Linked DNA regions of Homo sapiens. The protein of the gene in region 5 interacts with the protein of the main gene of each other region in a biochemical or structural test. Each region holds a gene or a part of one and is shown on either strand. Other genes may lie near its edges.

Region 1 (4,230 bases), on a different chromosome or scaffold from region 5:
CTGGCAGCAGCGACGGCTCCAGTTCACGAGGTCCTGAAGAAGAGGAGACAGGCAGCCGCGAGGACCGGGTAGGATGCCAGGGTCCCCAGACCTGACTGTGCCTCCAGACCTAAATAATAGCCCAGTCCCAAGAGGGTCCCCAAATTCAAATAGGACTCTAAGGCCAGGCATGGTGCCTGACGTTGGTAATACCACTTTGGGAGGTGGAGACACAAGGATCACTTAAGGCCAGGAATTCAAAGCCAGCCTGGACAGCATAGCAGGACCCCATCTCTACAAAAATACAAACTAAAATAAAATAAAAAATGAACCGGGTATGGTGGCATACACCTATAGTCCCAGCTACTCAGGACACTGAGGTGGGAGGATCCCTTGAGCACAGGAGGTAAAGGCTGCAGTGAGCTATGATTGCACCATGCACTCCAGCCTGGGCTACAGAGCAAGACCCTGTCTCCATTTTTTTTTTTTTTTTTTATGTAGGAGGGCTCTAGTCTTTTTTTTTTTGGCAGAATTTCACTCTGTCACCCAGGCTGGAGTACAGTGCTGCGATCTCGGCTCACTGCAACCTCTGCCTCCCTGGTTCAAGTGATTCTCTTGCCTCAGCCTCCTGAGTAGCTGCGATTACAGGCGCCCACCACCACGCCTGACTGATTTTGTATTTTTAGTAGAGATTGGGTTTCACCATGTTGGCCAGGCTGGTCTCAAACTCCTGACCTCAGGTGATCCACCCGCCTCGACCTCCCAAAGTGCTAGGATTACAGGCATGAGCCTCCACGCCCGGCCTGAGGGCTCAAGTCTTTTTTTTTCTTTCTTTCTTTTTTTTGAGACGGAGTCTTGGTCTGTAGCCCAGGCTGGAGTGCAGTGGCGCGAACTCGACTCACTGCAAGCTCCACCTCCCGGGTTCACACCATTCTCCTGCCTCAGCCTCCAGAGTAGCTGGGACTACAGGCACCCGCCACCATGTCCAGCTAATTTTTTTGTATTTTTAGTAGAGACGAGGTGTATACCGTGTTAGCCAGGATGGTCTGGATCTCCTGACCTCGTGATCCGCTCGTCTCGGCCTCCCAAAGTGCTGGGATTACAGGCGTGAGCCACCGCGCCCGGCCAAGGGCTCTAGTCTTAACAGTGACCCCACACCCAAATGTCACCCAAGTCCATGCCCCTGACCCAATTATTCCCTAGGCCCAGTATGTCCCCACAGCCCGTTTTTGTTGTTGTTGTTGTTGTTGTTGTTGTTTTTGAGATAGAGTCTTGCTCTGTCGTCCAAGCTGGAATGCAGTGGTGCAATCCAGACTCACTGCACCCTCCACCTCCCAGTTCAAGTGATTCTCGTTCCTTAGCCTCCTGAGTAGCTGAAATTACAGGTGCCTGCCACCATGCCTGCCTATTTTTTGCATTTTTAGTAGAGACAGAGTTTCGGCATGTTAGCCAGGCTGGTCTCAAACTTCTGGCCTCAAGTGATACTCCTGCTGCGGCCTCCCAAAGTGCTGGGATTACATGCATGAGCCACTGTGCTGGCTTCTTACAGCCCTTTTATTGTCCTGAGTGCAGTCCCCAGCTCTTGGGTGCTCTTACTCCCTCCTGCCTGGCCTCCACTGGCTGGCTGAAGGTCCTTGGGGTCTGGCATTGGGGCGGGGGGATCCTCTGACTATTCCCTCTCACTAAGTTCCCTACCCCAGGGCCCCATTGTGCACACTGACCACAGTGATCTGGTTCTGGAGGAGGAAGGGACTCTGGAGACCAAGGTGAGTGTTGAGAGGGGTGGGGCTCCCTTCACTGTTGGGAGAGGCGGGGCTCCCTTCATTGTGTTTCCGTCTCTCTCCCACGCCTGTCCCCTCCTTTTTCCTTCTGTTGTCCTCAGAGTTGGGACTCAGCTCCCCACCCCACTCCTCCTGCCCCCTGGGCCATCTCACTCAGCTCCCAGCCTCAGTTTGCCTGTCTGCAGACTCTTCCCACACATCTGTCCCAGCCCTAGCCTCCATCTGGAGCCCCAGACCAGGGCTCACCCTGCCTGTGCTCTCCTCATCACGGTCAAGCCCCCTTTCAGCCACCAGGTCCTACACTGGCCCCACATCTCCCCAGACTGGTTCTTCCTCTGGGGTCCTACCTCAGGACAGCCACATTGACTCCAGGCCATCCCCAGGCCAGAGCACTTCTCTCTCTCTCTCTCTCCTGCGTACCTAGCACATGCCATTCTCTCTCTTCTTTTTTTTTTTTTTTTTTTTGAGACGGAGTCTCATTCTGTTGCCCAGGCTGGAGTGCAGTGGTGCAATCTCAGCTCACTGCAACCTCTGCCTCCTGGGTTCAAGCCATTCTCCTGCCTCAGGCTCCCTAATAGCTGGCTAATTTTTCTTGTATTTTTAGTAGAGATGGAGTTTCACCATGTTGGCCAGGCTGATCTGGAACTCCTGACCTCAAGTGATCCGCTCGCCCCAGCCTCCCAAAGTGCTGGGATTACAGGCGTGAGCCACTGTGCCCAGCCGACATGCCATTCTCTTGGCCTGAAACACTCCTACCTTCCTTCCCATGTCTACCTAATTCCTTCCTTTAGTCCTCCAGTCTCAGCTCAGACATTTCTTGTTCTAGGAAGCCCATGCTTCCGTCATGACAGCTCGATCATTTTGCCTGTGTTCCACCCATCACAGCCATGACCACTCTGATCTGGGCTTCCTTATCCCACCCACTATGCTGAGGGCTCTACCATCACAGCCCCTGTCATTGCCTATGCCTTTCCCAGGCACAGCCCTGACCCCTCTGGGTACTGTCTCATGATCTGTCATTTTTCCTTTGGTGTGGGATTCTGTGAGGACAGGGTCCAGTTCTATCCTAGTGACATGCCTTGTAGCAGCAACACAGGGTGTGACACTGAATCAAAGCCTAGAGGCTGTTGGGCAGGTGAGTGTCTCTCTCCTGTTCCCTCTGCACCTTCCACACCGACACCCCTCAGCAGGCCTATATCCCTCCGTCTCTACCTTTCTCTGCCTATGTCCTATCCATTTGCCTCTTATCACTGTTCCTCTGTCTCACTTTCTCTCTCTCCCAGTCCATGTGTGTCTCTGTGTCTCTGCCCACTCCTGTCTCTTTTTGTCTCTCTCAAGGTCTGGTCTATTTCAGTGTGTCTCTCCATCAGTGACCCTCATCCCCCCTGCACGCTCACAGACTTTACTGAGTCCCATTTGTCCCCTCAGGACCCAACCAACGGTTACTACAAGGTCCGAGGAGTCAGTGTGAGCCTGAGCCTTGGCGAAGCCCCTGGAGGAGGTCTCTTCCTGCCACCACCCTCCCCCCTTGGGCCCCCAGGGACCCCTACCTTCTATGACTTCAACCCACACCTGGGCATGGTCCCCCCCTGCAGACTTTACAGAGCCAGGGCAGGCTATCTCACCACACCCCACCCTCGAGCTTTCACCAGCTACATCAAACCCACATCCTTTGGGCCCCCAGATCTGGCCCCCGGGACTCCCCCCTTCCCATATGCTGCCTTCCCCACACCTAGCCACCCGCGTCTCCAGACTCACGTGTGACATCTTTCCAATGGAAGAGTCCTGGGATCTCCAACTTGCCATAATGGATTGTTCTGATTTCTGAGGAGCCAGGACAAGTTGGCGACCTTACTCCTCCAAAACTGAACACAAGGGGAGGGAAAGATCATTACATTTGTCAGGAGCATTTGTATACAGTCAGCTCAGCCAAAGGAGATGCCCCAAGTGGGAGCAACATGGCCACCCAATATGCCCACCTATTCCCCGGTGTAAAAGAGATTCAAGATGGCAGGTAGGCCCTTTGAGGAGAGATGGGGACAGGGCAGTGGGTGTTGGGAGTTTGGGGCCGGGATGGAAGTTGTTTCTAGCCACTGAAAGAAGATATTTCAAGATGACCATCTGCATTGAGAGGAAAGGTAGCATAGGATAGATGAAGATGAAGAGCATACCAGGCCCCACCCTGGCTCTCCCTGAGGGGAACTTTGCTCGGCCAATGGAAATGCAGCCAAGATGGCCATATACTCCCTAGGAACCCAAGATGGCCACCATCTTGATTTTACTTTCCTTAAAGACTCAGAAAGACTTGGACCCAAGGAGTGGGGATACAGTGAGAATTACCACTGTTGGGGCAAAATATTGGGATAAAAATATTTATGTTTAATAATAAAAAAAAGTCAAAGAGGCAAGTGTGTCTTAGGGAGTCTACTGGCATTATCACTCTCCACCAAGGAAGGGGTCCCTTAGACCT
Region 2 (2,291 bases), on a different chromosome or scaffold from region 5:
TCAAGCAGAGCCAGCAGTCGTGCCAGCAGCAGACCTCGGCCTGATGACCTGGAGATCTAGATACAGGCTTGAAAGCATCAAGATTCCACTCAATTGTGGAGAAGAAAAAAGGTGCTGTAGAAAGTGCACCAGGTGTTAATTTTGATCCGGTGGAGGTGGTACTCAACAGCCTTATTCATGAGGCTTAGAAAACACAAAGACATTAGAATACCTAGGTTCACTGGGGGTGTATGGGGTAGATGGGTGGAGAGGGAGGGGATAAGAGAGGTGCATGTTGGTATTTAAAGTAGTGGATTCAAAGAACTTAGATTATAAATAAGAGTTCCATTAGGTGATACATAGATAAGGGCTTTTTCTCCCCGCAAACACCCCTAAGAATGGTTCTGTGTATGTGAATGAGCGGGTGGTAATTGTGGCTAAATATTTTTGTTTTACCAAGAAACTGAAATAATTCTGGCCAGGAATAAATACTTCCTGAACATCTTAGGTCTTTTCAACAAGAAAAAGACAGAGGATTGTCCTTAAGTCCCTGCTAAAACATTCCATTGTTAAAATTTGCACTTTGAAGGTAAGCTTTCTAGGCCTGACCCTCCAGGTGTCAATGGACTTGTGCTACTATATTTTTTTATTCTTGGTATCAGTTTAAAATTCAGACAAGGCCCACAGAATAAGATTTTCCATGCATTTGCAAATACGTATATTCTTTTTCCATCCACTTGCACAATATCATTACCATCACTTTTTCATCATTCCTCAGCTACTACTCACATTCATTTAATGGTTTCTGTAAACATTTTTAAGACAGTTGGGATGTCACTTAACATTTTTTTTTTGAGCTAAAGTCAGGGAATCAAGCCATGCTTAATATTTAACAATCACTTATATGTGTGTCGAAGAGTTTGTTTTGTTTGTCATGTATTGGTACAAGCAGATACAGTATAAACTCACAAACACAGATTTGAAAATAATGCACATATGGTGTTCAAATTTGAACCTTTCTCATGGATTTTTGTGGTGTGGGCCAATATGGTGTTTACATTATATAATTCCTGCTGTGGCAAGTAAAGCACACTTTTTTTTTCTCCTAAAATGTTTTTCCCTGTGTATCCTATTATGGATACTGGTTTTGTTAATTATGATTCTTTATTTTCTCTCCTTTTTTTAGGATATAGCAGTAATGCTATTACTGAAATGAATTTCCTTTTTCTGAAATGTAATCATTGATGCTTGAATGATAGAATTTTAGTACTGTAAACAGGCTTTAGTCATTAATGTGAGAGACTTAGAAAAAATGCTTAGAGTGGACTATTAAATGTGCCTAAATGAATTTTGCAGTAACTGGTATTCTTGGGTTTTCCTACTTAATACACAGTAATTCAGAACTTGTATTCTATTATGAGTTTAGCAGTCTTTTGGAGTGACCAGCAACTTTGATGTTTGCACTAAGATTTTATTTGGAATGCAAGAGAGGTTGAAAGAGGATTCAGTAGTACACATACAACTAATTTATTTGAACTATATGTTGAAGACATCTACCAGTTTCTCCAAATGCCTTTTTTAAAACTCATCACAGAAGATTGGTGAAAATGCTGAGTATGACACTTTTCTTCTTGCATGCATGTCAGCTACATAAACAGTTTTGTACAATGAAAATTACTAATTTGTTTGACATTCCATGTTAAACTACGGTCATGTTCAGCTTCATTGCATGTAATGTAGACCTAGTCCATCAGATCATGTGTTCTGGAGAGTGTTCTTTATTCAATAAAGTTTTAATTTAGTATAAACATAGCTTCTATATTCCGTGTGATTTGTTTCCCCTGCCGAGATGGAGTCTTGCTCTGTCACCCAGGCTGGAGTGCAGTGGCGCGATCTCGTCTCACTGCAACCCTTGCCTCCCGGGTTCAAGCAATTCTCCTGCCTCACCCTCCCGAATAGCTGGGATTACAGGCACCGCCACCGCACCTGGCTAATTTTTGTATTTTTAGTAGAGATGGGGTTTCACCATGTTGGCCAGGCTGGTCTGGAACTCCTGACCTCGTGATCCGCCCACCTCAGCCTCCCAAAGTGTTGGGATTACAGGGGTGAGCCACCGCACCTGGCCTATATTTAAAACTCATTGACGGCATCTATTTGAGATTATTTAAACACATTTCTATTGGTTATCAGAACTTCAGCAAATAACAGTCATGTTTTCAGGGACAATATTTATCATTAGCTCTGTTCAGTGCAACATAAATTGTAAACATTTTTGGATATTTATTGAACCAAAAGGAAGATAAAGTGTTGAA
Region 3 (4,230 bases), on a different chromosome or scaffold from region 5:
TTCTCTGTCACATGACCTCATTATAGATGGCATTAAATGCTTATTCATACCTGTATTTTTCCTTGACTTCTCTAGGGGTCAGGCCCAGCCCCAGGCCCAGTGGTATTACTGAATTCACTGAATGTGGATGCAGTATGTGAGAAGCTGAAACAAATAGAAGGGCTGGACCAGAGTATGCTGCCTCAGTATTGTACCACGATCAAAAAGGTGAGGCAGCCACTTACACACGGACCAGAGACAGCGCTGGGGGCGGAAGACAGGACTGTGTGGGTCGTGTAAACTTTATGTATAGCTTCCCAAACATGCATTCCCTGTTAAAATGGGAAAGCTCTAAATGGAAAACATAATTCTTACTAGTTTGTATTCTAAAATTGCCCTGTTTTCTCTTATTTTATAAATGGATAAAATAAAATAAAGTAGCTGTCTTACCATGTTCTTTTTTAAATGACGTAATACAAGTAAAGAATGCCTTGATGAGAAAGAGAAAGCTCTGAGGGATTCCCATTGGGATAAACAGAACTCATCTTTCCAGTGTGGAACCGAAAACCTTTGTGTTACATTTTTTTCTAATTGTAATATTTGTTAGTGTGATTTAGTGATTATCAAAGTAAGCCACACTTGCCTCATTTTCTCCAAATTCTCATTTTCATGTCATGTAGGACTTAGGATCATGTCACATTTGATGAAACCACATAGGTTTGGGTTTGCAAGGTTAATGCATTTGCATAGTTTTTTTTTCTTCTAAGATCCTATTGCAATTCTAGCAGCTATCAGGAAGTTGGCTAGAGATGCCTGAGATTTGGGGGAAGGTTTTAACGAAGTCTTTATAGTAGGTATTTCACTAAGGTATACTTTTTATATCAGAGTACTGTGTAATAAAGTAGAACGTTAATAACCAGCCTCTAATATTTATATACTTGAAAGAATGACATCTGAGAGAAGTTTTTTAAAGAATTATGAGCATATGTAGACACCATTTTACTCATCTCAGCCAATTTTAGAAAGGTTTCAGATAATGTCAGTTTCCTTACAGAGCTGGCTCGTGCTAGTCCCTGTTTGCATGAGTCAAACACCGGCTTTTCCATGGATAAGCCCCACTTTCTCCTTCAGGCAGCTGGTTGGTGTCAGGAAAGAGCGGGGTCTCCCACACGAGTCCTTTGTGATGATTTTGTTCCCATCGGGGTAGTGGTTTTCTCCCCACTCAGCTCTTTGCTCCTAGACCCCGGCTTTCTGAAGCCCCTCAGAGCCGCTGGCCTCCTCCGTGCTTAGGGCTCCGCGGCATTGTTGCAGCAGGACCTCTGTCACAGACTTGCTGTGTATACTGTTTTCTTCAGGATTAACTTGGAAACTGAACATTCTATTGATTATAAACATAGCTATTTCATAAATTTGCCCCAGTTAATAAAGTCAGGTTTTACATTTTATAAAAGCAGTAAGCTACCTATTATTAATAAAGAAAATGCTGTTGTTTCATTTAGGGGAAACTAGAATTACAGGGAACCAAAAGTAATAACTTCCTTTTTTATGATTTTTTTTTTCTTTGAGATGGAGTCCTGCTATGTCACCCAGGCTGGAGTGCAGTGGCGTGGCCATGGCTCACTGCAACCTCCCGCCTCCTGGGTGCAAGCGATCCTCCTGCCTCAGCCTCCCAAGTAGCTGGGACTACAGGCATGTGCCACCACTCCCAGCTAATTTTTGTAGTTTTAATAGAGATGGAATTTCACCATGTTGGCCAGGCTGGTCTCGAACTCCTGACTTTAGGTGATCCACCCACCTCAGCCTCCCAAAGTTCTGGGATTACATGCGTGAGCCACCGCGCCGGGCCTTGTGAATTTAATAGACTGGAAAATTAGTGGGTGGGCATTCTTCATATCTGTATCTAATATAACGGATAAACAAGTTTGCCAGGCCTACTTCATTTAGAACGTTGTTAGTGACCAACACGCTTATGAGAACAGATGTCTTTGTCCCCTCCCAGCAGCTTGTGTTCATGTTCATATTTTCTAAGATTAGAAAACAAAAACTAACAGTTTTGTTGTTGCTCATGACAGCATAGGTAGTTTTGGAAATAGGAGGGTTAGTTCTTCGGTTGGTCCCAGAAAATGCCTAAGACATTTGGGAAAATATGAAGTGGCTGATGTTGTTCAAATTCAGCTTGTTTATTGTATTATTATATGGGATGATAACCTTTTTTTTGGTCAGCCTTTCTGGTCTCTAGAGACTTATTTAAAACTAAATATAAGCATACTTGGCAATCACTAGTAATTCAGAATATTTCACATTCTGTCTTTATACCCATAATTGTTTTAATTTTTACTCAGGCAAACATAAATGGCCGTGTGTTAGCTCAGTGTAACATTGATGAGCTGAAGAAAGAGATGAATATGAATTTTGGAGACTGGCACCTTTTCAGAAGCACAGTAAGATATTTGTAACATTGTGATGTTTACAACATTATTTTATGATAACATTCAAAATTATTTATAACATTGTAGAAAACCAGTATCAATAAGTACTGGCCTAAACTGGTATTTTTTTCATATTTTTTTAAATTTAAAAACTGCTTCTTACACTTATGTGCAATCCTGTGTTGTGGAAAATACACACAGCAGCACTTGGCAGCCTTTGCCTTTTTGGGCATTTCACTCAGAGATTTGGGGAAGAGGCCGCCTGCCGGTTCTTCATGCTTTCACCTGCCTTAACTCTCATCAGGCTCCTCAAAGCCTTCGAGGCCTTGACCTTCAGCATTCATCCTTATAGGGCTTGCATTGCCCAGGTTTAGCAAGAATCCTGTTAAGTCAGTTTACATGTGTGATCACCCTCAGTATTTGATCAAACGCCTCACTAACCCCCCCACCCCCAGGTGATGTCGGCTCACCCTGGCCATCGGCGTACCAAGAGTCCCCCACTCCTGCTGCCTCCCCTTAGTAATGTTCCATCCACGACCCCCACCCTGCCCCTTGGTGGTAGATCCCCACTCATTCGTGCTTATTCCGAGTTGGACTCCCTTCTGTAGTGAGACTGCTTACCCCTGTTGCCATAGTTCTGAATAAAATCTGGACCTACCGCCCTACTCCTGGCCAGCTCTGGTTTTGACACAAGCCAGCTGCATTTTTCTTTGTCCTCAAGTTAAGTTTTAAACAGAAGTAATAATTTAATGGACAAATTGCAGTGTAGTATATGTATGGTGGTTTCTACCATTGCTTCCTTTAGTATTAATGAACATGAAAGATAAGCTGATGTATAAAACAAATTCACTAGAAATTCACTTACCAGAAGTATGCTTTCTCATTGCTGTTGCAATAGCTTTATAATGTTTGGTATTTCTAAATATTTCTAAAGCTTCTAAAATATGATTTGTTAGTGTAAATATTTATGTTTTTCTTCTGTTAAGGTACTAGAAATGAGAAACGCAGAAAGCCACGTGGTCCCTGAAGACCCACGTTTCCTCAGTGAGAGCAGCAGTGGCCCAGCCCCGCACGGTGAGCCTGCTCGCCGCGCTTCCCACAACGAGCTGCCTCACACCGAGCTCTCCAGCCAGACGCCCTACACACTCAACTTCAGCTTCGAAGAGCTGAACACGCTTGGCCTGGATGAAGGTGCCCCTCGTCACAGTAATCTAAGTTGGCAGGTATTTATTGAATGGCATTTTTCATATTATTGAAGAATAAGCACACCGTTCAGTTCACTGAGATTATATGGGCATTTAGACAGTCATTCAGAAAATGCTTACTGAATACCTAAGTGAACAGGAGACAAGATGGAGGGCTCCCTGTACTCAAGGAGCTGCATCCATGTGGAGAGGGGCAGTCAGTGAAACAAACAAAAAAGTAGCTCATGTAGACATTGATGAGAGCTGAGATATCCATCAGGGTCACAGCATGCAGAGTCAATAGGGATTAGGCCACTTGAGCTAGGGTGGTCAGCAAATTCAGCCTTTCTCAGGCGATCTTCCTGTTGCATTCAGTAACTGTTGGTTGAAGTACATCTTCATTGGAACACTGGCCACATAGTGTCCCTTTGAGCACCATCCTTTGGTTTTCCAGGACGCCTGCACACCCTTCACGGATATTGGTTTCTTCTGGTCTGGCATTAGATGTAGGCGCGTTCTTCCTTTGGAGATTCTTAGAAGAAGGAGGCCAGGTGAGGGGTAGGGGTAGGGGCAGGGACAGAGCAAAGTGAGAGATGCAGGAGGAGTAGCGGGAGTGAGGAGAGCGCAGGAGGAAAAGC
Region 4 (4,230 bases), on a different chromosome or scaffold from region 5:
AATTTCACATTTCTCAGCTTTTGGCTCCCTATCATGTGATAGTGTAGTTTAGGGGTTTTAATTTTTTCCCTTTTTTTTATTCTTTTCACTCAAGCTCTAGGGAAAAGTGTACTCCTGTTTACTGCCTTGCTGGGCTAGTAAACAGTTATTCTAGTCCTTCCTTTAAAGATAGGGCAGCTCCTTATCCAGCATTTCCATATGTTTGTATGGAGAGAGCTCCCATCCAGGTCATCCTAGTCCTGCATGGTATCAGAATTTGTCATTATCCGTTCTAAACAATATTCTTCACCCCACCTCCCTCTGTAAATATTAATATAAGCAGCCTTGGTTTTTTGATTAAAGATTGGAAGTTTTTACAACCAGTGGTGAGCATTACTTGTCTGTATGGTACAGAGCACTGGGTTCATATGCAGGCCTGGCCACTCACCAGCTCTCTGACCTTGGAAACTCACTTCACAGAACTCAGTTTAGTTATTTGTGATTTGGGAATAACAACGAGGAATAAATGATATAGGTGTGTGAAGAGCTCCCTGTTAGTTATTCTCTATTCTTCAAACCCAAACTCCACTCCCCCCACCACCTTTTTTGGTTTCTAATGCCTCCTGAAGATGGCCCAGAACTTAAGAATATTTAAAACCCTTTATATCGTGGGTATTGAGAAAGATCATTTGTATCTCTTTCTCCTACTGGCATGCTATGTTTTGGAAGCTAAACCTTTCCTCAGAGAATGACTCTTAAAAAGCCTCCATCTCCCAGCTCACCTTTGGCTTTGGATTTCCAGCCACTCTACATGTGAAAGTTACTGGCATTCCCTCAAAGATCTTGTAATGTTTCAGCTTCATCTCAAAGAATGGTGCCATTCCATTTTCCACAGGCACATCTCCATACTGAACTTCATCACCTGATTCATCCACAGGAGACCTTTCTAGCCTGTACTCTATTTCACTGATGAGTCTCTGTTCACAGCTGGAGACTTTGTATTCCTGAATCAAGGAAAGTTTAAGTTAGCAGACTCAATCCCTTCTGACAAAGTGTCACGTCTCTCCCTGCCCCCCAATAAGGCCCTAGAAGACAGTGATATTTTTACCATACAGCTTAAAAACACAGTCTGAGCCCAATTCAATTGCATATGAAACAAAAAACATCTGGAAGTGAGTTTATGTGGTATTTCAGATTGTCTTCAAGTCCTATCATCCAAAAAGAGGGGGGTAGGAAAGATGAATTTTTTTTTCCTTCTTTTCTCTGAGGCGAGGGGAAACAAGGGGAAGGAAAGAAAAAGGCAAAAGCAAAGCTATGTATTCCTAAACTGTTGATAACAATAAAATATAATGGAACGCTGATTTCCTTCTGTAGGGTAAAAGCTGATGCAGGGTGGTACATCTCTCCACATAGTACATGTGGCAAGCAGCTGCCATATTATATACAATTATAGTAAAAGAATAATAGAAAAAATGGTACTAGAAAAAATGGTAATAGAAAAAATAGTAAAAGAATAATAGAAAAAAAAAAATGTTTGTTTTTTTTCCCCCACCTCTAACAATCCCTGCCTTGCAAGGGCCGCCTCCTCAGCTCTGCAGCTGTTAGGAACCCACCATCTTTAGAAGAAAAAATAGGACTGACAGTCTAGCCAAAATTTTGCTTTAAAAAAAAAAAACAACCCATCAACATTCCTGTGGTGATTACGGTGGATCCTACAATTTCCTTGCCTACAAAGTGCATTAAAGGCCAGGTACAGTGGCTCATGCCTGTAATTCCCAACACTTTGGAAGGCCGAGGTGGGAGGATTGCTTCTGGCCAGGAGTTTGAGACCAGCTTGGGCAACAAAGTGAGACCCCATCTCTACAAAAAATTTAAAAAGAACAGTAGCTGGGCATGGTGGTACATGCCTGTTGTCCCAGCTACTTGGGAGGCTGAGGTGGGAGGATCACTTGAGCCTGGGAAGTCGAGGCTGCAGTGGGCCGTGATTGTGCCACTGCACTCAAGCCTGGGCAAAAGAGTGAGACCCTGTCTCCAAAACAAAAAAGTGCAATGAAGACAAGGGAGTCTATGTAAATATTCCCTATTTAATATTAAATGAAAGATAACTTTAACTATGTTTTCTCTTAAAGAAGTTACTCAGTGTTTAAAAAACAAGTTTGTTGGTTTGAGGGAAGAAATACAACAGTATGAATAAAACTGCAAGAGTTATACCACAAGTTGTTTTGCTTCATCTAATTACTATCAAATTAATCCCTTGAAGAATTAGCACTTTTGTTCCCCATAGAAAGGTATATATAACAAATGAAAAATTTTTCTTGATTTAATGTTCAGAGTATCCACTAATGACAGAATTAAATTCAAGTCAGAGGCCAGGCACTGTGGCTCATGCCGTATTCCCAGCGCTTTGGGAAGCCAAGGCGGGTGGATCACCTGAGGTCAGAAGTTCGAGACCAGCCTGACCAACATGGTGAAACCCCATCTCTGCTAAAAATACAAAATTAGCCAGGCATGTTGGCATGCACTTGTAATCCCAGCTACTTGGGAGGCTGAGGCAGGAGAATCGCTTGAACCCAGGAGACAGAGGTTGCAGTGAGCCAAGATCACACCATTGCACTCCAGCCTGGGCAACAAGAGCGAAACTCCATCTCAAAATAAATAAATAAATAAATAAATACATAAAGTAAAAATAAATAAATAAATTCAAGCTGGTAAATACATGACAAGAAAACTCATGTTGCAGTAATTTTGTGTATCTGATATTAAATGAAACAGACACTGGTCATAGCATTTATAATTAATATATGGCAGAAAAGATAGAAACACACGTAAAACAGGAAGAACAGAAGAAAACAGACACAGAGAAAGACTGGAAGGAGAAGAAAGGTGAAAAGCTTAACCTTTTGACCATCCAGAGGACTCCCTACAGAAGCATGAGGAGAACCAATGTCCTGTAATGGTAGAAAAAAAGATGTGAAGACTAATAATAGAAATAATAAGAATGCAGCAAGATTTCTAATTTTCCTTAAGTGAAACTTTTGTGCTAGCAATATGCGTTTGGTAGTAACGGTGCTGTGAGTACTCACACAACCATTCTGCTTCTCACTTTTGGTACAGGACTCCATAAATCACATGAGATATTCAATACTTTATTTTAAATAGGCTTTGTGTTAGATGATTTTGCCCAACTGTAAGCTAATGTAAGTGTTGTGAGCACATTTAAGATAGACTAGGCTAACCTAAGATGTTCAGTAGGTTAGGTGTATTAAATGCACTTTTTTTTTTTTTTTTGAGATGGAGTCTCGCTCTGTCACCTGGCTGGAGTGCAGTGGCACGATCTTGGCTCACTGTAACCTCTGTCTCCTGGGTTCAAGCGATTCTCATGTCTCAGCCTCCCGCGTAGCTGGGACTACAGGCGCACGCCACCACACCCGGCTAATTTTTGTATTTTCAGTAGAGACGGGGTTTCACCATGTTGGTCAGGCTGGTCTTGAACTCCTGACCTCAGGTAATCCACCCGGTCTTGGCCTCCCAAAGTGCTGGGATCACAGGCGTAAGCCACTGCGCCCCGCCTTAAATGCACTTTCAACTTACAATATTTTCAACTTATAATGAGTTTATCAGGACATAACCCCATACTAAGTTGAAGAACATCTGTATATATGTGAAAGAAGATAAAGAGATAATATTTTCTATTTTATTTTGACTAGATATTAAGACTAAACAGTTGATCTTTGAACAACACAGGTTTGAACTGCATGGGTCCACTTATATATGGATTTTCTTCCGCTTCTGCAACCCCTGAGATAAGCAAGACCAACCCCTTGTCTTCTTCTCTTCAGACCACTCTAATTTAAGACAATGAGGATGAAGACCTTTATGATGACCCACTTCCACTTAATGAATTGTAAATGTATCTTCTATTCCTTAAGATGTTCTTTGTAACATTTTCTTTTCTCTAGCTTACTTTAAGACTACAGTCTATAATACATATAACATACAGAATACGTGTTAATCAACTCTTTGTTATCAGTAAGGCTTCTGGTCAACAGTAGGCTGTTAGTTAAGTTTTTGAAGAGTCAAAAGTCGTATATGTGTTTTTAGTTTTGTTTTGTTTTGGAGACGAAGTCTCACTCTGCTGCCAGGCTGGAGTGCAGTGGTACAACCTCAGCTCACTGCAACCTCCACCTCCCGGGTTCAAGCAATTCTCCTGCCTCAGCTTCCCGAGTAGCTGGGACTACAGGTGTGCGTCAC
Region 5 (4,230 bases):
CCTGTTATTTATCTTACAAATAGCCACATTCCTTTTTTTTTTTGTCGTTTTTTGAGACAGAGTTTCACTCTTGTTGCCCAGGCTGGAGTGCAATGGCGCGATCTCAGCTCGCCGCAACCTCCGCCTCCCAGGTTCAAGCAATTCTCCTGCCTCAGCCTCCTGAGTAGCTGGGATTGCAGGCATGCACCACCATGCCCGGCTAATTTTGTATTTTTAGTAGAGATGGGGTTTCTCCATGTTGGTTAGGCTGGTCTCGAACTCCCAACCTCAGGTGACTCACCCATCTCGGCCTCCCAAAGTGCTGGGATTACAGGCATGAGCCACCGGCGCGCCCAGCCTGTTTTGGTTTTTTTTTTTTTTTTTTTTTGAGATGGAGTCTCGCTCTATCGCCCAGGCTGGAGTGCAGTGGTGAGATCTTGGCTCACTGCAAGCTCCGCCTCCCAGGGTCAAGGAATTCTCCTGTCTCAGCCTCAGGATTAGCTGGTATTACAGGCGCTCGCCACCACACCCAGCTAATTTTTTTTTGTATTTTTAGTAGAGACAGCGTTTCTCCATGTTGGCCAGGCTGTTCTCAAACTCCTGACCTCAGGTGATCCGCCCGCCTTGGCCTCCCAAAGTGTTGGGATTACAGGCATGAGCCACCTCGCCCAGCCAACAAATAGCCACATTCTTAACTTTGCATATTTTTCCAGTTAATTCACTTAGATTTTGATCTAGATGCACAGTAGTATAATTTACAAATAGAGATAACTTTTGTTTTTCCCTTCCAAATGTAACTATTCTCCTTGTCTTGTTACACTGTCTGAAATCTCTAAAGCAGTGATTCTCAACCACCATAATTTCGCTGGGGCAATTCTGTCATAACATTTTTTAATTGTTATGACTGAGGGGGAGGAGTACCATTGTCATCTGATAGACAGAGGCCAGGGATGCTGCTTAATATCCCACAAGGCACAGAACAACCCCCCACAATGAAGAGTTATTGGGTCCAAAAATGTCAGGAGTAACACTGAGAAACCCTGCTCTAAAGCAATGAAGAATAATAGCAGTGGGAAGAGGCATCCCTGCCCTCTTTGTAAGTTAACGGAGGCCGGGCGCGGTGGCTCACGCCTGTAATCTCAGCACTTTGGGAGGCCGAGGAGGGCAGATCACCTGAGGTCAGGCATTCGAGACCAGCCTGGCCAACATGGTGAAACCCTGTCTCCACTAAAACTACAAAAATTAGCCAGGCGTGATGGTGGGCACCTGTAATCCCAGCTACTCGGGAGGCCGGGGCAGCAGAATCACTTGAACCTGGGAGGCAGAGGTTGCAGTCAGCTGAGATCACACCACTGCACTCCAGCCTGGGCAAGAAGAGCGAAACTCCATTTCAAGAAAAAAATTAAAATTAAATTAAAAAATAAGTTAATGGACACACTGCTAAAATTGTATCATTATAAAATGTTTGTTACTGGTTCCTGATAACTAGTCTTCACCATCTTAAGGAAAATTTCTGTGTTCCTAGTTTACTAAAAGCTTTCATCCAAAAGAGATGGTGAATTTCACCAAATGCCTTTTTCACGTCTATTTAAGATAATCACATCGTTTTCTCCTCTCGCTCTGTCACCCAGTCTGGTGGGCAGTGGCGCAATCATTGGCTTACTGCAGCTTCCAACTCCTCGGCTCAAGCGATCCTCCAGCCTCAGCCTCCCAAGTAGCAAGGAGTATAGGCACGTGCTAATTTTTTTAATTTTTTTAGAGACAGGATCTCGCTTTGTTGCCTAGGCTGGTCTCAAATCCCTAGCTGGTCTCAAATCCTCCCACTTTGGCCTCCCAAGTGCTGGGATTACAAGCATGAGCCACCACACTTAGCCTCCCGTAACGTTTTAATATATGAATCATATTAAGAGATTTCCTAATATTGAGCCATCTTTAGTTTTCTGAAACAAACCCTATGTTATTCCCTTAACATGCTGCCATGTTTGCTTTGCTACTATATTATTGTAAACTCTTGTATCTCTATTCAGAAGCAAAACGGGTCTATACTCTCCTTATTTTACACTATCCTTGTGACCATTCGAACTGGCCTTATAAAATGAAATGTGAAATCTTTTATCTTTTCCTGTACTCTGGAAGAGCAGAAGAATTATCTATTCCTTGAGAATTTCACAAAATTAGCCATAAAACCAACCAGGCTTTGTGCCTTCCAGGAGAGAGATCGTTGACGATCTTTTCTAGTTCTTTTATGGTAATTGATTTTCCATCTCTTCTCCAACAACAGCAAGGATCAGAGGTTGTGGCTATTTCATAGGGAATATCTGAAGAGGGACAGCTACAGGGATGTCGTGGGACTGCATGTCATGGGTTAAACGGGATGGGTCATGGGGAACTTTGGTGTTTGAAGGGCTCTCACAGGTTGTGATGTCTGGGGGAGCATAGCTGTCACTCAGGTAGGCATTGCTGGGCTTGGCCACCTTTAGGTAGACAACATCATACGTGTTCTTCAGGGCTGCCACAGCATCTTCATGCATGACGTCCTCTAGCCCCACACTGTTGACCTGGAGTCAAGGAAAGCAAAGCTCAGACAAAGCCACAAATGGCCCAAGACAGAAGCACTGGGGTGAAGTGATGAACTTGGGCCTGCCAGGGCTAGTAGGTGAGACCCAAATCTGGGCTAGAAAATGGGCTAGATGGAGTCCTCACCGCCAGGATCTTGTCTCCAATCTGCAACCTCCCATCCTTGTGGGCAGCACCCCCTTCGATGATCTTTGTTACATAGATGCTATTATCTCCTGGGATGTGCTGGTTCCCTACGCCCCCTGCGATGCTGAAGCCAAGACCTGGATGGAGGGGAGGCCAGAGGTGGGTGCCCAGGAAGCAGGCTTGGGGGCACAGGACAGTTGGGATGGGGGTGGGAACAAAATGAGTTACTACCTTTAGGCCCCTTGATGAGCTTGATCTCCATGACCTTCTCAGCCGGGGGCTTCCGGCGCATGACATAGAGGCGAACGATGGAGCCTGCCTCTTTGAGGGCTTCCACCGCCGCTGAGTGGGTCACCTCGCGCACGTCCACTTCATTTACAAACAGGATGCTGTCGTTGACCCTGGGAGCAGCAAGGTGGGCCTGAGCCAAGAGCTTCCTGCTGCCCTGGCCCTCCCTCTCCAGGGACCAAGCAACCTAACCCCTGTCTCCTCTCCCCACCTGAGGCGGCCATCCTGGGCCGCAGCCCCACCAGGAATGATCTTGGTGATGAAAATGGATGGGTCGTCACCGATGTGTGGGTTGTCAGTGCCACCTGCGATGCTGAAGCCCAGACCTGAGTTACCCTGGGTGAAGGAGGGGAAGAGGGTCAGCTCCCCTCACTGCCCAAGTCTGGCAAGGCAAGTGGGGTGGGAAATGGCTTGGAGCAGCCAGAGGAGGAAGGCACAGGGTGAGGGGCTAGCCACCCAGACCACATGGCAGAAAGAAAGGTACAGACGGGAGGCCACGGGGACTGCCGATGGAGGAGCCTGCTCACCCTTTCCAATGTGATTTCCTCGTATTCCATCTCCCCCTCGGTCCCGTTCACCTGCAACTCCAGCACGGGACAGAAACACAAAAGCAGTGAGACAGACATTCCTGTCTGACCACCTGCCCGTCATCTGCTGCCCTCCCTTACTCCCTCCTTCCTTCTGCAATGGCCCCAGCCCCAAAATCTAAACAACTCACATATCCTGGGGCTTCTAGGGTATCTGTGTTGACAATCACTGGGGGAGAATTGGCCTGTTTGGGAAAACAAGAGACAAAAAGCAGCCTGAGCCTTGACTCGAGAGGGAGCCCATAACGGAGGGTCCCATCAGCGTGGCTACCCTTTCAGCCTCTTAGCCAAGCCCACTCCGCCACCCTGAGAGCTGCTCAAGGGCCCAGCCTCAATCCACATCACACACACGCACACGCGTGCACATGCGCACGCGCACACACACGCACAGATGCACACGCGCAAGGATCTAACTCTGCCCAGCCCGGGGCCCCCTGCATGTGGAAGGAGGTGTAGGAGAAGCGGGAAGGGAGACAGCCAGACGGAGAGGGGAGCAGCAGATGGCAAAGAGTGGGGAGAGGGGGGTAGGCTTGGGGGAAGGGAGCTTCTCACCGGATGTAACACCACAGGGTGTTACATGCCTTATGTGCTACACATGGACACCCCAGGGATCATGTCCACCGGGTCCTGGTCCCCATTTCCTGCCCCATCCCCCCAACCCCCCATATCTACC
Region 6 (4,903 bases), on a different chromosome or scaffold from region 5:
GGCAAAAAGTCTGTAAACCATGTCCTATGAGGCATGGTTTGAAAGAACTGAGGATATTTAGCCCAGAGGATGAATGACTTGGCGTGACATGCTAGATATTTTAAAGGGCTGTCATGTGAAAGAGGAATTAGAAATTGTTTGTGTGAAGCTATTTTTTCCTCAACCTAAGGAAGACCCTTTTAACAATTAGGAAATGATCAAATATGGAATAAGCTGTTTTGCATAGGGATGAGTTTCTCAGACTGTCAGAAGGATATTTCTGCACTGAGCAAGAGGATAAACATGGCTTCTAAGGTTCCTTCCAATTCCCAGGTTCTGTGATTCCCTGCTAGATTTACAAGTATGAAGGTGGAAAAGATGGCTAAAGAATATGAGCCCAGACAAAACATCCTCCGTTGATTTTAAAACCAAAATTCCATACCAGGGATATTTGCTTGAGGACTATCTCACTGTCTAGCTGAATGGTTGCCAATATTTAGAGGCCTAATTGCCCTGGACCCCTGTTTCCTTGTGCCCTACCTCTAGCTGAATTTCCATCTTGGCATAGAAGGTACAGAGGGAGTTGTAGGGAAATGCCAAGAAGGAGATCTCAGAGACCAGAGTTATAGAAATGCTCAGAACTGTTTTATGAAAACATTGGTATGGGCCCAGTGAGTGGAGAGAGAACATGCTTCCTGTCCTTGTTGAGCTCTATGTTGCTCACTTGTTATCCCCAACCCCCCTTATCTCTTACATCTTCAACTAGCCAGCAGGAGGGTTGGTGCAGGAGGAGGGGTAGAAGGAAGTAATTTCAGGTTCAAGGGTTAACAGTACACTGGTCAGGAAAGCTGAGGAATGAGATGATGAGCATCTTTACAGTTTGTGAAAATGAAACAAACAAAACAACTTGAGAATCATGTTCCTGGAATTGTGTCCAAATGAATGTCTCAGGTTGAAGGGACCAGGACTTTGACTGTGATGCAGTATAGTATTTATAGGGATCTTGCTTGGCCTTTCAGAGCAAAAACAATTATTTTCTCTCCTCTCACCTAACACAGCTGTGCAGAATCTTCATAGCCTGGTTGCTAGAAATTAGGGTTCTTATAGCTGCTGTGGAATAAACTCCATTCACTTTCCTCTTAACAATCCCTTCTCTCTGTCTTTGACCAAATGTTACCTGTTGTTTCACGAAGTGACCTTTTCTTCATTGCACCCCATTAGCTGCTCTTTCACTCCCAGTCACTTCCTGAAGTCCTCATCACTATCACAGATCTGCCTACCAGGGCCATGTCTGACCAGGGCCATGTCTGCAGCCTAGCCCATATTAACTTTGCCAACACTTCACCATTTTTCTCTGCATGTCCTCTCTCTAGTAATGTGCATGTCTGTGATATTAACCCTGGGACAGAAAAGTAAGAAATCTATCAGAATCCTCGCTGAAAGTCTTATTTCTCCTTGAAACCGAAAGAGCTTTCAAACGTGGCTTCCTGAGTTTTTCAGTTTGCTGGTGGGTGGGTCTGGAGTGGGCATCCCGTCTGCACATCTGGTAGAGGCACTTTCCACATTTTCCTCATGACTCAGGATCAGTTTCTGACTGCTGGGCGGGGCAAAGCCTCCTGAAGTTGCTGCGAGGCACCTCCCCCTGTGAGCAGAGCTTGGTACAGCCCAAATAGTTTTCAGGTTAAGAAAGCCAGAATCTTTGTTCAGCCACACTGACTGAACAGACTTTTAGTGGGGTTACCTGGCTAACAGCAGCAGCGGCAACGGCAGCAGCAGCAGCAGCAGCAGCAGCAGCAGCAGCAGGGCTCCTGGGATAACTCAGGTGAGTAGAGAGGGAATTCGCAAACTTACCCTGGAGTTTTATTTCCTGGATAACTTAGCGTCTAAGAAAGATGAAGAAACTTCAACTTTGTAGTTAACCAAACTCCACAGCTATATTTTATGGCTTGTCTGGATCAAATATGTGCCCGTTAATAGCAGTTTGAGAACTTCAAAAATAATGGAATTTTTGGTTGGTTATTTTGAGGGGTGTGTGGGGTGATGATTGTGGTTGTCTGGCAATGAAACTTTTCTGGGGATATCTGGTCAGTTTTTTGTGTGTGTGCACACACGCGTGCATGTGTATGTGTTTGCCTTCTGCTACCCAAAATACCTGGTAAGTGAGGAAAAATCACAGGGGATGGTGTTGAGGGGGAGAAGCGTGGCTCCTTTCAGGGCCTCCTTCTAGCTTCTGCTGACCCACAGCTGTGGGAAAATTATTGAAATGCGAGCAAAATCTTGGAGCCACACTGTGTGCAAAAGGCCTGTGAACTCTGGTAGGAGGGTGAGCAGGCTGTGCAGTGTTGTACAGGAGGAAGTGGTGGCCAAGTCTATCTTAACTCCCTGTCTGCACAGCCAGTGGTCTTCCTGCCCTGGTGACAGGTTGATCTTGGCTATTCCATTTTCAGCCTCTGGCCTGGCTTTGTTCCCCTCTGATTCCAGCTTTGGTTTAAACTTTGATTTCAAGATGGGGCTCCATCCTCCACTCCCAGGCCAAGTACACTGTTCTAGGGTCTTCACTGGACCACTTGATCAGAACTGGCTTTGGGTGGGGGACGGGAAAAAGGAGCGGTGCATTGTAATGGAAACAATTGGTTCTGAGGATTTGGAACTGTAAGTTTGCTGAAAAGCACATAGGAAAACTCAGCAAATTCTGCTGTCCTAACAATTACTTCTGGCTTCAGGATAAAACATCCTGGTTTGTATTATTGGTGTATTGAAATTCAGCTAATGCCTCATTTGCTAATCTTTATTGTGAAAGTAAGAACACTTTACAGTCTGAAGTAATAAACAAAAAAATTATTTGTGGACTGCTAATTAACTCTTTTATTCCTCTGGAAGTTTGTGTGTGTGTGTGAGCATGCTTATGTGCACGTGTGTGCCTGGGTGTGTGTGAATACTTTGTATTCAAATAGCGTTCTTTATTTGTCCTTAGACTCCCTAGCAGTCTAGGGAAAAAGTCTAAACACTTACATGGTCAGGAATAGGTTAAAAAGCAGGCTTTCCATATCCTTGGGAGTTTTCAGTTCCTAAATTAAAAGCAGAAAAAGTCCCTTTGTGACCCCAAAACAGTGTTTCTTTGATTAGCCTTGATTTGAAATCATCTCACCTTCTGACAGCTTGCAATTCAAAAACAAAACTTCTAAGTGCATTCTTGTGAGAAGAGTACAATATGAATTTTTAAAAGCAACGTCTTGCTTGACATATTGTGTCTGCATGTTTGCCCTCCTCCCCACCTTACAACAAATTGTGGTTTAAAAAAAAACGTTGGGAGGTCCCAGTTTTAGTGTGGGCTCTGTCACTAACTACATAACCCTGGGCAAGTGCCTTTACCTTACAACAAAAGAAAGAAGTTGTACTAAGTGATTTCTAACAGACTTTCCAACATAACATTCTATAAAATCAGAATTTGATTCTTGAAAGGCTGGAAAAGTAGACATATAGGATGGGCTTATTCGGCCAAAAGGGCAAGTCAGCCAAAAAAGGAGGGGTGAAATAGGGAGGTGTAGAGAATGGTGGAGGGGCAATTTTTATATTAGTCTTTTAAATGTTGGTGCATGTCTTATTTAAAGCACATGATCAAATTTCATTAGTTTCCCCTAAAGACAGAAAAGAAATTTAACTTGTTAAAATAAGTGCTTCCTAATACTACTGCCCTGCTTTAGCCTTATCTTTAACAATAAAGAGTATGTTCACATACATAATTTCATTACATTCTCCCAATAACACTCTGAAGTAGACAGGGAAGCTAACATATTCCCATTGTGCTATGTGGAAACTGAGGGACTGAGATGTTATGTATACTAAATGGTGATATTTTGGATTTGTTTCTGGATCTTGTAACCACCTGTGTTCCTTTTATCATTTTGAATTGCTTTTTATTTTTTGATAGAGTTATTGAGCAACCGAATTAAAATTGTGTCCTCTTTTTTTTCCTTTGAATGGCTTTGAACAGACTCTTCTCTCTGGGCCAGTAGGTACATCCTATATAAGGCAGTGGGCTGGATCAGAGGATCTCTGTGGTCCTTTTTAGACCCAGAATATCTGGTTAGAAGTTTGAATCTGAACAGCCATACATAAGTCCTGTGGTTAAATGCGTGCCCATGTATGTAAGCTATGACTCTGCCTGTGTACCTATGAAAAGCACTATTCTCTGTATACCATGTGGATGCTGAATTTGTATTACTTTTTCCTATCCAAGTCCCTTTTCTCTCACCATACCACCCCCCAGGTGTGGGGATAAGGGATGTGGATTGTGGGTAAAAGTGGTGCCTACTTCATGCCAGGGCAGAATTGGGTCTTCTGTATTCAATTTGTCTGCAAACTTTTATTGATTTTATCTTGATTTTTGCTCCAAGTACAGAACAGGGATGAAACTGAGGAAAAGGAGAAACTAGGCAGGAACAATGCCTCAGCCATGCCCTCTCTCCCTCTCCCCATTAAGTTCCCTCATGTTCTCTCCCACTCACCTAAATCCAAAGTGGCTTGTGAACCACAGACAGGATGTATTTTATCAGATTTTTTTAGAGCAAAATATGCTTTTTGCTCTAAGGCTAACCCGCAGGTTAAGAAGCAAGAGATTTTGCTTTCACGACTTGCCTAGCTTCCTCAAGCTTTCCAGTCCAGTGAGTAGAAAAAAAATACCTCTCTCTTTAAACTGCAGCCTTGTATTCTACGTGGCAGTCTCCCTCAACTTCCCTGGCAATTCTCAACTTTCTGCACTCTGGGCCCGCTCCTATCCTTTGCCTTGGCAGACACGGTTGTCCTCATATTCTTTCTCAAAGTGGTGGATCTGAATTATAATAATATTGCCTAAGACCATTACCTCAATGCTAAGCCCCACCACACTCTGCCTCACCCAACCGCTCATTCCACTAGCCCTCAG
Region 7 (3,975 bases), on a different chromosome or scaffold from region 5:
CTTGAGAACTCTGACTTAGTTGAATTAATTTTTTTCTTTTTCTTTTTTTTTTTTTTTAGAGACAGAGTCTCCCTCTGTCACCCAGGCTGGAGTGCAGTGGCACAACCGTAGCTCACTATAGCCTCCAACTCCTAGGCTCAAACGATCCTCTTGCCTCAGCCTCCTGAGTAGCTGGGACCACAGGCATGTGCCACCATGCCTGGCTAATTTTTTTTTTTTGTAGAGATGGAGTCTCACCATGTTGCCCCGGCTGGTCTCAAACTCCTGGGCTCAAGCAATTCTTCCACCTCAGCCTCCCAAAGTGCTGGGATTAAAGGCATCAGCCTCTGTGTCCAGCCCCTAAATTAATTTTTAAAATACCTGAAATCCTCTAAAGTAGACCAAATAAACAGATTCCAAAATTGTATCAAGAGTTCCTCAAGAGGTCTTCTAAAATTGATAAAAATGAATTTAAACTTTTTTAATGAAATGATAAAAATGATTTACTCATTTGATGAATCAGCTTTAAGTAGAAAGTTTTGTATTCAAATGGGCAGCCTGCTCTTCCCACCCTGCTCCACTCTCTCGACTCCCCTGTCTTCCCACCCTACTCCACTCTCTCCACTCCCCTCTCTTAGCCATGGGGCCCAGCCATCCTGGGCCACCCAGAGGCCTCGGTGAGACCCACAGGAGTAATAGGCAAAGGCAAGTGTGTGCAGAGCTTGCAGCCACAGGTAGGGCTGGAGTTGGGACCAGAGTCTTCAGAGCTTAATTTGGGGCTGAGGTGAGGCCTTAGATGAAGCCAGGGCCAGGGTCATTTTAGAGCCAAGGCCCAGCCTGGGACACTCAGCCTCAGCTCCTGGGTCTGTGGACAGATGGGCAAGACCCCTCCCAGTGCCTCAGGGAAGCTTCCCAGCCTAGGCAGCAAATTCTACAGGCACTCCCTCAGAGCTGGCCTGGAGCTCACACCTGTCTGCCCAGGCCTGGGGCCAGCAGGCCAGAGTGAGTGCAGCCTGGGAGCAAGGAAATGATGGAGTCTGAGGAAGGCATGAGGCTAGAACCACCTTACCTGGTTCAGTGAGGTCCCCCATGGCAGCCATCACTGGCCCCTTCTGCTCCTTGGGGATCATCCTGTGGAGGAGAGACCCCCATAAATGGACCAGGCTGCCTCCATTTCTCCCCAGACCTCCTTCCAGTCTCTGGTTCACCCTGCCCCAGTCCTGAACAGCTTTAGGCCAGCCCCAAATCACAAGCAAGGGATGTCTGAGCTGGAAGGGACTTCAGGGTCTCCGTGCAGAGGAGACTGAGGCCCAGGGAACGAGAGGGAGGTGCTCAAGTTTGCACGAATCTATTTTCATGTTGCTAGGGAAGCACTGTCTCTTCAGGGGTGGTTTCTAGGGCCTTTTCCCAGCTCTGGCATCCTGATCAGAGGGAGAGTAGGTGCCAGGGGCATCCGGGTGGGGCAGGCAAAGGTCTCAGGCACTACTGTCATCGGTTGACCCAGGAGAGTCCTAGTCCAAGGCTGAAAGAAGTTGGAGGTTTAAGTTAGGGGAAGGGGGAGGATGGACTAGGTTGGGGTTACACTGGGGTCTGCAAGGCTGGTGAGCCCCTTTCATCCTTGGCACTTGGCCCTGACGCTTGAGGGCACAGGCTGGTCCAACCAAGCAGAGAGAACCATCCCCCGTCCTCCCCATCTCCCCGCTACTGGGCTAACTTCCGTGGTGTTCTCTTCTCCCTCGTCCCTTCTCTTCCTCCTGTTCCATCCCCCTATTTGTATCTCATGGCACTTTCAAAGAATCTTGGAAGAGATTTGCAAATAAAATGAGGTCCAGAGCCCTTAACTTGCCCAGGTACCTTAACTTGCCCTCTGGAGAAGAGGCAGAGCCCTTGAGCTCCTCGACTGACCACCCACCTGGGTACCCTTCTCCTTTGCCTCCAGGTTTTCCTATACTCCTTCCTTTAGAAAACAATCTGCCTTCATCTGTATCCCCAACACCGACAAGGGGCCCTGGGAGTCAGTGGGCACTGCATTGTGCAACTGGAGTCTAGTGGGTGTCCCTGGCTTTCTCTGTAACTGCGAACAAGTAGCTTTCCAGCTCTGCACCTCAGTTCCCCCATCTGTAACAGTAGGGGGTTAGGCTAAATCACAGAGATCCATGGATGGGCTTTAGGGTGTTCACAAACCCCCTAAAACTATACGTAAACATGAGTGTGTCTACATGCATTTGGGGTGAGGGTCATGGGATGATTGAGAATGCCTCGATCACAACCGTTTAGGATTCCACAGTCCACAGATCTGTTTCTTGATAAACACTCCCTTTACAGAAATTCACAGATGCTGGGAAGGGTCTCTCATTTTACAGAGAAGCTGCTTCCCTCTACTGCCTAAAAATCCCAAAGTCCTGAGCAGAGCCATTACCTATTCCCCACCTTTAATCCTAGCCACACCCTCCCCATTTAATGCAGGGTAACCTAGAGCTTAGAGTTCCTCTCCTCCCAAACCAGGATCGAGGCTTGCATGGGGCCCCAAACTCCCTAGATCCACTGCAGGGCCCTTCCTCTCCGGGGGAAGGAGCTCTGGGGATTGGCTCACCTCCTCTGCCCACTCCCCTGAGTTCCCCAAGCTCCCCTAGGATGCTGGTACCTGAGAGGATGGGACCACAATAGGCAGGAGGGAATCTTAGACCCTCAAGATTAACACCTCTGTCGGGAAGCTGAGAGTTGCGTGGCGTCCCTGTAGGCAGTCAGCGGTCAGCAGTCAGTAGGCAGCGAGCAGGGTGTCCCCTGCAGCCAGCTCTGGCTTCAGCTGATGAGAATCATTCCTGCCTTGCCATGGGTCACAGCCTTATTTCGGGCTGCAATAGGAGCTGGAGCCAGAGGCTAAAAGCACCAGACCCTAGGGAAGACAGGTGCCCTGGCAACAGGCCTGTGCAGACAGAGGGCTTGCACCCACGTGTACACACACACTCACATATGCACACACCAAAGTCACCTGGAAATGTTGAGGGTCAGCTGCTGGTAGCTTCCGCTTGTTAACTGTTATATCCTTAGTGCCAAGAATGGTGCTTGATAGGAACTCAGCAGATATTTGTCGAAGGAAGGAATGGATGGATAGATAGATGGATGAATGAATTGCTCCTCAATATCTTTGCTTGACTTATCCTTTTCTTCCTTCCTTTCTTCTCTCCTGCCTTTCTTCTTCTGCCTCCTTCCTGCCTGCCTTCTTTTCTCCCCTCCTCCCTCCCTCCCTCCCTCCCTCTACCTTCTCACATTCCCTGAGCCTCTCTCTAAGGACTGAAAATAAATAAGGCAGGGCTCTGTCTTCAAGGAGCTCAGCCAGGTCAGATTCAGACGGGTAAACAAGCTTTGGGGAAGGCTCTGGGAGAGCCCAGGGGAGGGAGTTACCAGCTCAGCCTGGGGTGGGGGGTGAGAAGGCTTCCCAGAGGAGGACACACTGGAGTTGGGCCTTGAAGGATGAGTGGGAGTTCACTGGGCAGAGAAGGGGCATGGCAGGCAGTGGACATGTCACCTACAAAGATGGGTAGGGGGTTGGCAAGTAGAGCCGGAGCTGGGGGCAGTGCTGAGAGATTAGCCCAGACAGTGGGGGCAGCGGCCAGATCCCAGCAGGCTTTCAAAAGGAAACTGTGTTTATAAAGGGTTGCTGACAAGATTAAAGTGGTGAAATGGAGTGATCGGATTGGCATTTTCCAAAGATATCTTTGCTGCCATGTGGGAAATGGGTTGGAGGGGGCCAGACTGGAGGCAGGAGGACCTGACTGTCACCAGGGGTGGCTGGATCAGGGCAGTGACAAGGAGATGGAGAGGAGAGGGAGTTGAGGGTTATTTGAAGAACCCTTGGGTCTTGGTGAGGAACTGGATGTGGAAGGTGAGGAAAGGGAGTCCCACTCCCCTGTTTCATGCTTGGGTGACTGGAAGGGGAGGAGCAGGAGGGGTGGGGGCAGACACTGAGGTCAGTTTTGGATGAACTTTGAGGTG

The links.
Region 1: the proteins of DLG4 (region 5) and KIRREL2 interact in a test that uses a peptide from one of them, tested with the Homo sapiens proteins (one large-scale study listed by IntAct).
Region 2: the proteins of DLG4 (region 5) and GJA1 interact in a test that uses a peptide from one of them, tested with the Homo sapiens proteins (one large-scale study listed by IntAct).
Region 3: the proteins of DLG4 (region 5) and KIDINS220 interact in a test that uses a peptide from one of them, tested with the Homo sapiens proteins (one large-scale study listed by IntAct).
Region 4: the proteins of DLG4 (region 5) and PALLD interact in a test that uses a peptide from one of them, tested with the Homo sapiens proteins (one large-scale study listed by IntAct).
Region 6: the proteins of DLG4 (region 5) and CAPN6 interact in a test that uses a peptide from one of them, tested with the Homo sapiens proteins (one large-scale study listed by IntAct).
Region 7: the proteins of DLG4 (region 5) and MYOZ3 interact in a test that uses a peptide from one of them, tested with the Homo sapiens proteins (one large-scale study listed by IntAct).

What each region holds. Positions count from the first base shown.
Region 1 is NC_000019.10:35,862,969-35,867,198, forward strand, and holds the end of KIRREL2 (kin of IRRE-like protein 2 isoform c precursor), read left to right. Parts: coding exon 1-68; intron 69-1,679; coding exon 1,680-1,745; intron 1,746-3,188; coding exon 3,189-3,524; coding exon of another isoform or gene 3,525-3,568; 3' UTR 3,569-4,168; downstream 4,169-4,230. UniProt on the Homo sapiens protein: May regulate basal insulin secretion.
Region 2 is NC_000006.12:121,447,937-121,450,227, forward strand, and holds the end of GJA1 (gap junction alpha-1 protein), read left to right. Parts: coding exon 1-60; 3' UTR 61-1,791; downstream 1,792-2,291. UniProt on the Homo sapiens protein: Gap junction protein that acts as a regulator of bladder capacity. A gap junction consists of a cluster of closely packed pairs of transmembrane channels, the connexons, through which materials of low MW diffuse from one cell to a neighboring cell.
Region 3 is NC_000002.12:8,732,845-8,737,074, reverse strand, and holds part of KIDINS220 (kinase D-interacting substrate of 220 kDa), read left to right. Parts: intron 1-75; coding exon 76-207; intron 208-2,321; coding exon 2,322-2,420; intron 2,421-3,394; coding exon 3,395-3,631; intron 3,632-4,230. UniProt on the Homo sapiens protein: Promotes a prolonged MAP-kinase signaling by neurotrophins through activation of a Rap1-dependent mechanism. Provides a docking site for the CRKL-C3G complex, resulting in Rap1-dependent sustained ERK activation.
Region 4 is NC_000004.12:168,895,246-168,899,475, reverse strand, and holds part of PALLD (palladin), read right to left. Parts: intron 3,884-4,230; exon of another isoform or gene 3,724-3,883; intron 2,928-3,723; coding exon 2,877-2,927; intron 984-2,876; coding exon 762-983; intron 1-761. UniProt on the Homo sapiens protein: Cytoskeletal protein required for organization of normal actin cytoskeleton. Roles in establishing cell morphology, motility, cell adhesion and cell-extracellular matrix interactions in a variety of cell types.
Region 5 is NC_000017.11:7,200,511-7,204,740, forward strand, and holds part of DLG4 (disks large homolog 4), read right to left. Parts: intron 3,743-4,230; coding exon 3,689-3,742; intron 3,558-3,688; coding exon 3,498-3,557; intron 3,307-3,497; coding exon 3,182-3,306; intron 3,084-3,181; coding exon 2,914-3,083; intron 2,820-2,913; coding exon 2,683-2,819; intron 2,538-2,682; coding exon 2,393-2,537; intron 1-2,392. UniProt on the Homo sapiens protein: Postsynaptic scaffolding protein that plays a critical role in synaptogenesis and synaptic plasticity by providing a platform for the postsynaptic clustering of crucial synaptic proteins.
Region 6 is NC_000023.11:111,267,269-111,272,171, reverse strand, and holds the start of CAPN6 (calpain-6), read left to right. Parts: upstream 1-1,688; 5' UTR 1,689-1,801; intron 1,802-4,903. UniProt on the Homo sapiens protein: Microtubule-stabilizing protein that may be involved in the regulation of microtubule dynamics and cytoskeletal organization. May act as a regulator of RAC1 activity through interaction with ARHGEF2 to control lamellipodial formation and cell mobility.
Region 7 is NC_000005.10:150,660,076-150,664,050, reverse strand, and holds the start of MYOZ3 (myozenin-3), read right to left. Parts: upstream 2,801-3,975; 5' UTR 2,624-2,800; intron 1,111-2,623; 5' UTR 1,110-1,110; coding exon 1,049-1,109; intron 1-1,048. UniProt on the Homo sapiens protein: Myozenins may serve as intracellular binding proteins involved in linking Z line proteins such as alpha-actinin, gamma-filamin, TCAP/telethonin, LDB3/ZASP and localizing calcineurin signaling to the sarcomere.